3 linked regions of the Homo sapiens genome follow. The protein of the gene in region 2 purifies or fractionates together with the protein of the main gene of each other region. This does not show direct contact. Each region holds a gene or a part of one and is shown on either strand. Other genes may lie near its edges. The genes, in order: SLC7A11, CEP128 and POC5.

Region 1 (3,657 bases), on a different chromosome or scaffold from region 2:
GGCTGCTTGTTACATGTTAAAGTCTTTCAGTGCATATTGATTTTTCTGTTGAGATCCACAATAATAACTGACAGGAATAAAACAAGCCAACTCCTATTCAACCGCTAATAAAGATGCCACCAGCATTAGGCAATGAATATTACTAGAAACAAATCCTGACAACATGACTGACAACCTTATCTATGCCATTTCTTAAAAACAAATAAATCGTGAGGTCAAATCAATCCATGAGTCAAGTCTGAAGAAGATGACAAGCTTTTTCTCCAGTCCTCCAAAAGGGAGATGCTTACTTATGGTAAATGGGTATCAAGTGGTAAATTTGTAGATCTTCTCTTTCCCTGTATATTTTACATTTCTATTCTTTTTGGAGTGTATAATATAGAGAAAGAGCAATGTAACAAGTCACAACATTTAAGTACTTAAAATGCCTATTTTGTAAAGGCAAATTCCTTTTTGGAATTGGCATTAACAAAGTATCTCCCTTACTCCTCCTCACCATGGCTGTCCACAACTCTAGCATAAAGACAGACAGAAGTAGCCCATACTTTGAGTATATCAGGTCATTGAACACATTCATGAAAAATCAACATACCAAACATTCATTCATACAGTCATTTTTCAAAAATTTGACATACAAAGTTCAAGCCCATCACATAAAAAATTGGATCCACTGTTTTTTTTCCAACTTAAAATAAATCCAACAGGAAAGCACTGCCTGCAAGAGTTAAACATTTTTATTCCACAGATGCTGCCCCCAGCCCAACCTCCCCATCAGCAAGTTATGACAAAGGGAGGACTAGGTATTAGGAGAGAGATTTATGTAAACCCATCAAGATTGCTGAGGTTACCTTGAAAGGACGATGCATATCTGGGCATTTGTATCGAAGATAAATCAGCCCAGCAACTGCCAGCCCAATAAAAAGCCACCTGGCAAAACTGAGGAAATTCAAAAGACTGTCGAGGTCTCCAGAGAAGAGCATTATCATTGTCAAAGGGTGCTGAGGGGGGAAAGGGAAGCAAGCTTGGTGAATTCAGTGAAAACACAGATGATTAACAACAAAAACCTCACTATGCATTACGACCTTTTTCAAATAATTATTTATACCGATAAATTATCATCATAGTTAAAACTTGGATTTGACTAATCTCTTTTCTATATTCTGTTGTCATAATCCATTTACACACCAGTAACAGTATGAGAGTGATATGGCCATTATACTTTATTCAAGTGGAATTCTATATGAATGTTGTGTTGTGTTTTTAGTTCCTTTTGCATTTGAGAGAAGATAGTATGTCTTCAAAGAGTAAAAGAAAGGTTACTCAATGACTCAAAATTGAAAGACTCAAAGATTGAGATGATTAGTAAATAACCGATAATGAACAGTAAAAGAGGCCCAATTGGAAGATTTACAGAAAGCTCTGCAAATGCTCTCCGGTGAGCTCTTGGCTATCCACACCCAGGAAACACAGACACTCATAGGTGATTCTGTTGGCTCTTGATTGCAAAACATTGACCTTTTTTCCTCCACATTTACTCTCCTGGTGTGCTTGCCGTGTGTGACCCTCAAGACCACGGAGAAGAATGAAGCGCAGAGATCAGCTTAGCAAGTCTCTGCAGCTGCACATGCCAAGGACAGCATGACTGATAGCAGAGGCTTAAAATGAAAGCCCTCTTCACGGAATAATACATTCTGTTCCCACAAGTGACGTTAACATCCAGATTCTGCACAGAGAGTACACATACTTTAAAAAGAAATTTCAAGGAAACGTTCTGAAACAAATTAAATGCATGAAAAAAAAATGTTCAGTGCATTCTGTGGTGCTCCTGACAACAGACTCCAGTTGAGAGAAATGTTACAAAATCATCAGTAAAAATGAATATAACATTGCCAATGGGTATTTGAGGACTTTTACACCTCATACAGTCTTTTGTAGCTCACATTTCACACTTTGCTCTGCAGAAAGAATTTTACAACTCAAATTTACCTCGTGGTGCTTTTATTTTTATCCTGCAGGATAAAAGACACTTGCTCTCAAATGTCTCAAATGAATCATGGCACTGTCTAGGATTTTATCAATTGTTTCAATAATTTTGTGTGCATTTCATTATAAGGTGCCTAGATGATACATCTGGGTACTTTTTGGACTGTAGCTTTTTGCTCTACTTTCCTTAAGTCATTGGGACTTAATACTCTACATTCTTTTCTGTGAGGTGCTATGTCAATGAGAGGAGCCAAGCCAATCATTTTCCTTAGACCTTACACATTTCTGCAAAGATGAAAGTGAGGTGATGATGATTTTTGCCCCAAAGCATCAAAAAAAATAGGCATCAGAAACATGGAGTAAAGGGAAGAGATGGAAGATATCCTGCCTCCCAAACTCCACCATGACATACATTAGCAATGAATGAGAAAGTAAAATACTATCTAATGTCTGGTTGGAATTCCTTTTTGCTAACCTATTATTCAAGGTTATATCTAGATATACTTGTTAATATGCATTACCAAAACAATAACAGCTGGTAGAGGAGTGTGCTTGCGGACATGAATCATGGAGAGGATTTCTGGAAGGTGACCCTCTCGAGACGCAACATAGAATAACCTGATGGGAGAGAAATGTGGGTGGAGTTGACTGTATGATTGATCATTTCAAAGGGAAAATCCAAAAATCCCAGAGAAAACGTGCATCTTTTCATACCAAATGGTCAGGTATTCCTTAGGTGATTGCCTAAGTTCACTTTTCAAATAAGGTGGAGAAATATCATAGGAAATCTAAATTTGGATTTTACAAAATCTGCCAACATTATATTATTCTTTGAAGAGAAAGAATAGCAATATCTGACTCAGCATAGCTCTCTCTACATATAAATAGCTGATGGGAAATCTAGTTCTAGATTCCTAGTATTATATGTGTGTTGTCAATCCAATTCAACAAACACACACACATGCACATCCACAGGTACACACACCTATATGTAGCATTCACATTTATCTGATTGGCTTTTAATCGTATATTAAAACAAAAAGACTATTGCATCAAACTAAACAAAGGAAATACTGATGGTAGGGGTGGTGATTTCTGATGTCTCTTACTTTACTTTTTTCTTGGCATCTTCAGAGAAACAGAAAATTATATCACCAGAAATAAAATGCCATTGTTAGACTGTGGAAATACTATTTTTAAAAAAGCCACATGTCCGTCTTCCAAATAAGCTATTAATAGGCAAGCAGTGCCCTCTAATGGACAGAATAAAACGTGCTGTTGATACTTGGACCAATATTTCAATCTTGCATGTCCCTTTAAAAACAACAGGTTTGGAGGCACTATTTCTTTTCTTTTTAAAGTTATCCTTATCACATCCAATCTCAAAAACAGAAATGTGTTTCTGGAAATACATGAACTCACTCACCTGGAGACAGCAAACACACCACCGTTCATGGAGCCAAAGCAGGAGAGGGCAACAAAGATCGGAACTGCTAATGAGAAATTTCCCAGTAGCCGCTCAGAAAAGGTCTAGTGAAAGAAAGAACGAAGCAAATTAATGCCTTGCCAGAAAGTGGAATAAAATGAAACAATTTAGGCCAAACTTGCTCTATGACTTTCTATTAGCCTGGTGATACTTGTATGTTTTATAATTTCTCTCTTTGGTTAGGGTCA
Region 2 (3,657 bases):
CTCAACCTGTCACTTCACGGGAAAACGACAACTGTGTTCAAGTCAGCAGATAAAGTGGATGCATTCAGAGAAAACTAGAATTATGGGGGCAACCAGTGAACATTGGGATTTTTGACATGTTTCAAATATTAGCAGAGATTTTGAAAGAGACTGAGCCAGGGCCTTCTTTCTCCCAGCTGGTGTATGATCATCTATCTCAGCTTTCAAAGGAGTTTGAGTATTACTTCCTAATATAGTCTGGCTGTGTCTCCACCCAAATCTCATCTTGAATTGTAGTTCTCGTAATCCCCATGTGTCGTGGGAGAGACTGGTGGGAGGTAATTGACTCATAGGGGCAGTTACCCCCATGCTGTTCTCATGATAGTAGTGAGTTCTCACAAGATCTGATGGTTTTATAAGGGGCTTTTCCTCCTTCACCTGGCACTTCTCTCTCCTGATGCCATGTGAAGAAGGATGTGTTTGCATCCCTTCCACCACGATTGTAGGTTTCCTGAGGCCTCCGCAGCCATGCGGAACTATGGGTCAATTAAACCTCTTTCCTTTATAAATTACCCAGTCTCGGGTATTTCTTCATAGCAGCATGAGAATGGACCAACATACTTCTCAACCATAAAAGATCCCCAAATTGGGAAGAAATGGTTCCGCAACCCACTTGTAAATAAACCAGGTGAATCAACTTTGTCCATGCTAGAAGAGGATCAACTTCCTGAGATTGCAAATGACTCTGGCCTTAAAAGTATGTCTGAGACAACTTCAAACCTCTATATGTTCTGGATTTAAGTCAAGGCAAAATATCCTGAGATTGCCTTGTGCACCAAAAAGCCTGCTTCCATTTCCAACATCTTATCTTTGTGAAGCAGGTTTTTCTGCAGTGACAGCAACAAAAATGAGACTACAGAGTAGAATGGACGTAAGCAACACACTTTGGGTGTCACTGTCTCCCATGACCCCAAGACGGGACTGTCTAGTTGCAGGAAAAAAAAGCTCAGGGCTCCCACTGACTCTATGGTGAGTTGCATAATTATTTCTTTATATATTACAGTGTAATAATAACAGAAATAAAGTACACAATAAATGCAATGCACTTGAATCATCCCAAAACCATCCTTCTCTCTGCCTCCCAGTCTGTGAAAAAATTGTCCTCCATGAAAAGTGCCTCTGGTGCCAAAAAGGTTGGGGACCCCTGCCCTAAAGCTATTGAAACCAAATAATAATAATAATAATAATGATTTTTTAAAAGGACACTGCAGAAGGAAGGCGCTTCTCTTTCTGGTTCCATGTTTTCCATTTGTTGCATTTTCATTTCAGCATCCTGTGTGAGGATATCCAGTGGTACTCAACTCCATCAAGTTTCAGCAGTACCCACATTGGGCAGCTTCCCATCAAGTTTCAGTAGCCCCACCCCCTACTCAGATTCTTACTGAATCTGACAGACAACCTCACAGTCAATCCCCCAGCTTCACCCTACCAGCATCCTGGAGAGGTGTTTCCTGCCCATCATTCGTGGTGTGGTTCCCTGCCTTCCAGCGTCACTCCGCCTTTAATTAGGAACAGTGTCCTCTCCTTCCCCAGCAACTGTGGATCAGCTATGGCCCCAGTAACTCAGTAAGTCTCTCCACCATTCAGGGAGCTATAGCCACACCTCCAACAAGGTAGGAATCCCAGCCTTGCAGAGAGCCCCCTCTAAGTTTATATCTCCTTTGGGCACTGTCTGTCAGCCCAGGGGATTCTTTAGAGTCATCTCTGTCCTTTTACAGATAATCCCCTTATAGTTAATTATATCAGGAGTCAGCAAATTTTTTTTCTCTGCCCAACTGTGAGCCTCTGCCAGCTGTAGCACAAAAGCACAGACAATTATAAATGAATGGGGTAGCTTGATTTGACCTGTGGTAAGCTAAATTTAGCCCATGGGATATGGCTTATCAACCTCTGCTGTATGTTAAGCTTTCCCTGTTAAAATTACTATGGGACATCTGTCTCATCTGTTTAGGGGCAAATGCTGAGTGAACTCTGAGGGACAAATCCAACAAATACGTCAAGTAGGAAAAGGAATAGAAAGTATCCTTTGGAAGTGCTAGTGACTGTATCAAAAGCAGTCTCAGTAAAATGCTTAGGTGAGGACGATGCCAGGTTGTGGAGTAAATAGGAGGTGAAAAAGCAGAAGCACTGTGTATAAATCATTCTTTTAGGAAGTCTGCATATGTGAAGAAAGAGATTAGTAGCTAGAAAGGAATATTTATGTGTGGGAAATAAGCCTTAGATTGCAAAATATTTGAGACTCTGATGCCAGGGAGGTCCGATATACAAGAAATAAGATGGCAGACTTCAGACAAGCCCGACCTACCATTAGGATCCATGCAAGCAAGTCACTTACTGTGGAGAGTCCTATGCAACCACCAGCTGAGGATGTGCTACACATCTTTCCTGCAAACACTGTGACACACTTCCCCCACCCTCTGCAGTTAATTCCCAGCTTTCAAGCCTCCTGTCTTAATAAGTTACACAAATAATGGCCTTCATCCTAAAACTGCTTTACAGTACCAGATGGTTCAGCAAACTATGGCACAGCCAATTTTAAGGGTCAGGAAGAAGATAATGATTTCTTGTCTAAGAACTCAAAGACCATCCTTTGGCAAAAGTTTATTGAGCAGACCTTAAAATTAAAGGTCAACAGGAAATGTTTTTTAAAACATCGATAAAGTAGAAACATACTGGATTTAACGATTGGAGCACATAGCTGGAAATCAGAACATCAGAGGTACAAACGCGAGAACCACCATTTACTGAGCACCTAGGTATGACAGATACTTTGCATACAGTAAAGTATCTCTGCAAAGCTTGGCTTAACCTCAGGCCAATCTTACAAGGCAGGATTTCTAACCTCCCTGAGGGCATATACTAGCTCTTGTTCATCTATTCCCAGGCCCCAGCATAGTGTCTGAGTGTCCGGCACATTCAATATTTACTTCTTAAATGAACAAAGTAGTCCCTTTTTTGCAAATGAAGAACTACTAACGCTCCCAGTAGTTAAGTAGCTAGAAAAGCCTGGATTCAAACCATAATCTTAAAGCAACCTTCTAAATAAATAGGAGACCCCATAACTGGAAACATATATAAACCAAGACAAAAAAGAATATTTGTTTTAATTTTTTTTCTGTAAAATTATGAGACTATAACTGGTATATTACTTGCTTACATTTATACAAAGGCATAATAATGTTCAACTTTATTGAAATAATAATAGCTATTGATTTACAGTTTCCTATGGACTAATTTCTGTACTAAGTGCTTTATGTATGCTCTCTCATTTGATCCTCATAACATTATTATTATCATCCCCATTTTACAGAAAACAGAACTAAGGCTTAAAGGAGCAAAGTAACTTAAGTGGCAGAGCCAGGATTCAAATCCAGGCAAGAAGACTATTTCCGAAACCCAACTTTTTAATCAGTACACTTGTTACATGTAAATGGCAGTGGTGAGAAAGCAAAAAACAAAAACAAACAAACAAATGAAAAACAGGTATACCAATGAGTAAAGGTACTCTTCCCTAAAAGCAAAATAAGCTGATAAGAATAAAGTGCTTGGCTGGGCACAGTGGCTCATGCCTATAATCCCAGCACTTTTGGAGGCCAAGGTGGGTGGATCACTTGAGGT
Region 3 (3,657 bases), on a different chromosome or scaffold from region 2:
TAGTTCTCTTTCCCTCCAGAAATTTGGGCCTCTGCATAAGTCCTTTCCTTAGACTATCTGTATAGAAAATTTGCAGAGTATTAGTTAGTTAGCTTATTTAAGAAGTTTAACAATGATTACAGTGCCTACCTAGATCCTTTGAACTCCTCTGATGAAAGGGACTAATTCAATATAAAATACTTTTAATTTGAAAACAAAACACACACTGAGTTTTAACTTGTTTTGGTAGAGATTCTGAGTGTCTATCTTTAGATGGTGGCAGACATTAGGAGATGTAGAAACAGTATGAAGGTCAGGGAAGAGAGGCAGGTGATCAACTCTTGCTAATATAGGCTGATATCAGATAACTCTTAAGTTTAATAATTAATCTCATTTTAGCTGGAATAAATTTTTCACTTGTCAAGTATTTTTTTTTACTGTGCCTAATTGGCACAGTAAAATTGGCAGATATAATTTTAAGGACTTTTTGTCATGTTCTAACTTCTTCATAAAAACCTCTAATTTGTAAGATTTAAGATACTGCACAACATGAGAGGTACTGCAAATTACAGACAGCAAAGAATCGGTACAAATAAAAAACCAAATATTTATTTTGCTCTAACAAGACAGATGCATTAGGAACTTTACATTATTAAAAACTGCATTATAAAAAACAATTTTTTTTTTTGTGAGATAGTCTCGCTCTGTCGCCCAGGCTGAAGTGCAGTGGCATGATCTCAGCTCACTGCAACCTCTGCCTCCTGGGTTCACGCCATTCTTCTGCCTCAGCCTCCTGAGTAGCTGGGACTACAGGTGCCTGCCACCACGCCCGGCTAATTTTTTGTATTTTTAGTAGAGACGGGATTTCACCATGTTAGCCAGGATCGTCTCGATCTCCTGACCTCGTGATCCACTCACCTCGGCCTCCCAAAGTGCTGGGATTACAGGTGTGAGCGACCGCGCCTGGCCTATAAAAAACAGTTGTTTTAATAGAAGGGGGCCAAAAGTAATTTTTTTTTCTTATGAGAACTAAAAAAAATAGGTGTCATTAAAATGTCATAAAACCTAAATATCACAAAGCAGATCCACTGAATTATACTGAACTTTTTTGCCTTTGGTAGCTCTACCAACATTATTGCTAATGCATGCTTTACCATTCTTGTCATCTTTCTCATCGATTGTTTCAAAAGTAACAGGAGCAAAAGAAATCATGTTGTGTAATTAGCAGAAGACATTTTCTTCAAATCCTCTTATGGATATTGGCCTTTAGGAGACACAGTTGCATTTCAATTTACATTTTAAGATGGTAAATGTATTAAGGTGGGAAATACTCCTAAGTCAATTCAAAATCTTTTTAAGTAGGTTATAAGAAACAGGTTTCTTGTAATTTAATGTAAGAAGTTCTAATAGGAATTTGTCACTTTACTTGTGAAACTCATATTTCTCCCAAGTAAACAATTAAATTTCTCAATTTGTGACACACAACTTGCTGATACTTAGAACTGAAACAGACTATTCTATCATTGAAGGTGGTGAGTTTGTTTTCAACCCTGATACTCAAATAAAAGACCATTTATTGGAAAAATCAAGTACTCACCTAGGTATTACCAAAATAAACTATTCAGCCTTGAGATTCCATGATTCTCAGTTTCTAAATTAAATATGGCCCACAAACCACAACCACTTCAGATAGAAAGCAATTTGCCTAAACTTACTCCTATCCACAATATGCATGCTTTAAATAATAAATGTTTGTTGATGTTTTAAAATAAGGGCATCACAAGCACAGAGAAGTTATTCATTGGATTGAAATCATGTTAATCATTTACAAAATCTTGAGACGTTGACTTGAATTAAAACTATTAATAATTACATCATGACTATCATCTTACACGTTAAAGTGCATTTTGTCTTTTAAAGTGTTTTCAGATATGTTTTACTGCATCCCACAAGAAGCCCCTAGGAAGCAGGTAAGGAAGGTTTATATTATCTCCTTCGCTCAGAGAAGAAATCTAAGGCCGAATGAGGAAAACAGGCCCCTGGGTAAATTGGTGGCAAAGGATTCTAGTTATGGGCTTTTCTACGCCATGCTGACAAAACTACTACACAAACCACTCTTATGTCAGACAATATGTGGATTTTTAAAAAAAATAAAATTACTTCTATAGATAGGTCTATATTTATGTTTGCTGCAATGAGCTTAGTTGAGGCCTTTCATAAACAGGAAGATTAGGAATTTCTAAAATGAGAAACCATGACTAGATAACAAATACTTACCAAAATAGTCCAAAATATTTGGCTACTTAAGAAAAGACAAAATTAGAAGTTTTGTACTTAAAAAGGCATTAAAATTCTTAGTTAAAAGAGATTTAAAATAATGCTATACATTAAAATATTATTTTCAACATTTAGCTTAAATACTTAGGAGTGACAGTGTACTTGATCAGATCTAAGATACCATAAGTAACCATGACTGAGCTCATTTTCATGGCAGATTTAAGTCTGGATATGACACCATAGAATTAAGAATAGCAGCACCTGGATGAAACATACCTACTGCAGATTATTTGTACTGTAGACCATACCAATCACCAAAATCTCCTCAAATCTTTTTTTGAAATTAGGCAGAGAAACTTTAATGAAATACTAACCTGCATCATTTCTGTTTTGAAATATAGTCATGGCTTCAAGATTTAATGCACATACACCCCTCATGAAAGCTTTTTTCATGGAATCTTCAAAGTGCTCTTTTTCATGTTGCATTCTTTGAATCTCAGCTTTTGCATTTTCCAAAGCTCCAGATAACTAAAATAAGAATGTTTAAAAAGCAAAACAATTTGAGATACAAAGAAGAATACTGTCAAAAAAATAGATATATACTTTGAGATTATTCTCATGTGAAATATTAAAAAGTTTGTCACTTACCTCTTCTGCTATGTGCAATTTATTTTAAAAGGTACCTCTTACCTCTATTATCTCCATCAACAAAATGCTTTCATTCCTAACCTTAAAATCAAGGTTCAAACAAGGGGAATTTTATCCAGTCCCATTGAATATTGCTGATGTATTTTCATTTCACAAAAAGATACACCATTTTTTACTGTAAAACTTTTATGTAGGATGTTAAACAAAATACATTAAGAGCCACAGACAGCCCTTTCAGAAAAAAATAAAATAAACTACATGCCTGCAATATTAACAGAATTTTTATAATGTAAATGTTACCTTCAGTATTTGAAGTGCAGAGTGACCCTAGGTACAACACACTTTCCCATAGGCCAAACCTCAGGGGACTGCATTTTTTGCATGTCGTAGTGAACTGCAGAAAATTATTTGTATTATGGATTTATTTTTAATCTTAACAATTTAATGCTGTAATGAGTTATTTTTTCATTTTAATATTTAACTTCAAGAGGCCTATTGCATTCTTTAGAATGGATTTTATTTCATTTCAATTCCAAATGTTTTCCCATGAAAACAATGTTAATTTTATTATTAAAAGTCAATGGGAAAAAATAATTTCAATTTCTTTTTTTCTTTTTTGAGATGGATTTCTGCTCTTGTTGCCTAGGTTGGAGTGCAACAGTGTGATATAGCTCACTGCAACTTCTGCCTCCCAGGTTCAAAAGATTATCCTGCCTCAGCCTCCCGAGTAGCGGGTATTATAGGCATGTGCCA

What was found.
Region 1: the proteins of CEP128 (region 2) and SLC7A11 fractionate together in Homo sapiens (co-fractionation; one large-scale study listed by BioGRID). This does not show direct contact.
Region 3: the proteins of CEP128 (region 2) and POC5 purify together in Homo sapiens (co-immunoprecipitation; one large-scale study listed by IntAct). This does not show direct contact.

What each region holds. Positions count from the first base shown.
Region 1 is NC_000004.12:138,179,793-138,183,449, forward strand, and holds part of SLC7A11 (cystine/glutamate transporter), read right to left. Parts: intron 3,514-3,657; coding exon 3,410-3,513; intron 2,602-3,409; coding exon 2,505-2,601; intron 999-2,504; coding exon 849-998; intron 1-848. UniProt on the Homo sapiens protein: Heterodimer with SLC3A2, that functions as an antiporter by mediating the exchange of extracellular anionic L-cystine and intracellular L-glutamate across the cellular plasma membrane.
Region 2 is NC_000014.9:80,931,683-80,935,339, forward strand, and holds part of CEP128 (centrosomal protein of 128 kDa), read right to left. Parts: intron 1-3,657.
Region 3 is NC_000005.10:75,686,382-75,690,038, forward strand, and holds part of POC5 (centrosomal protein POC5), read right to left. Parts: intron 2,785-3,657; coding exon 2,631-2,784; intron 948-2,630; coding exon of another isoform or gene 829-947; exon of another isoform or gene 567-828; intron 1-566. UniProt on the Homo sapiens protein: Essential for the assembly of the distal half of centrioles, required for centriole elongation. Acts as a negative regulator of centriole elongation.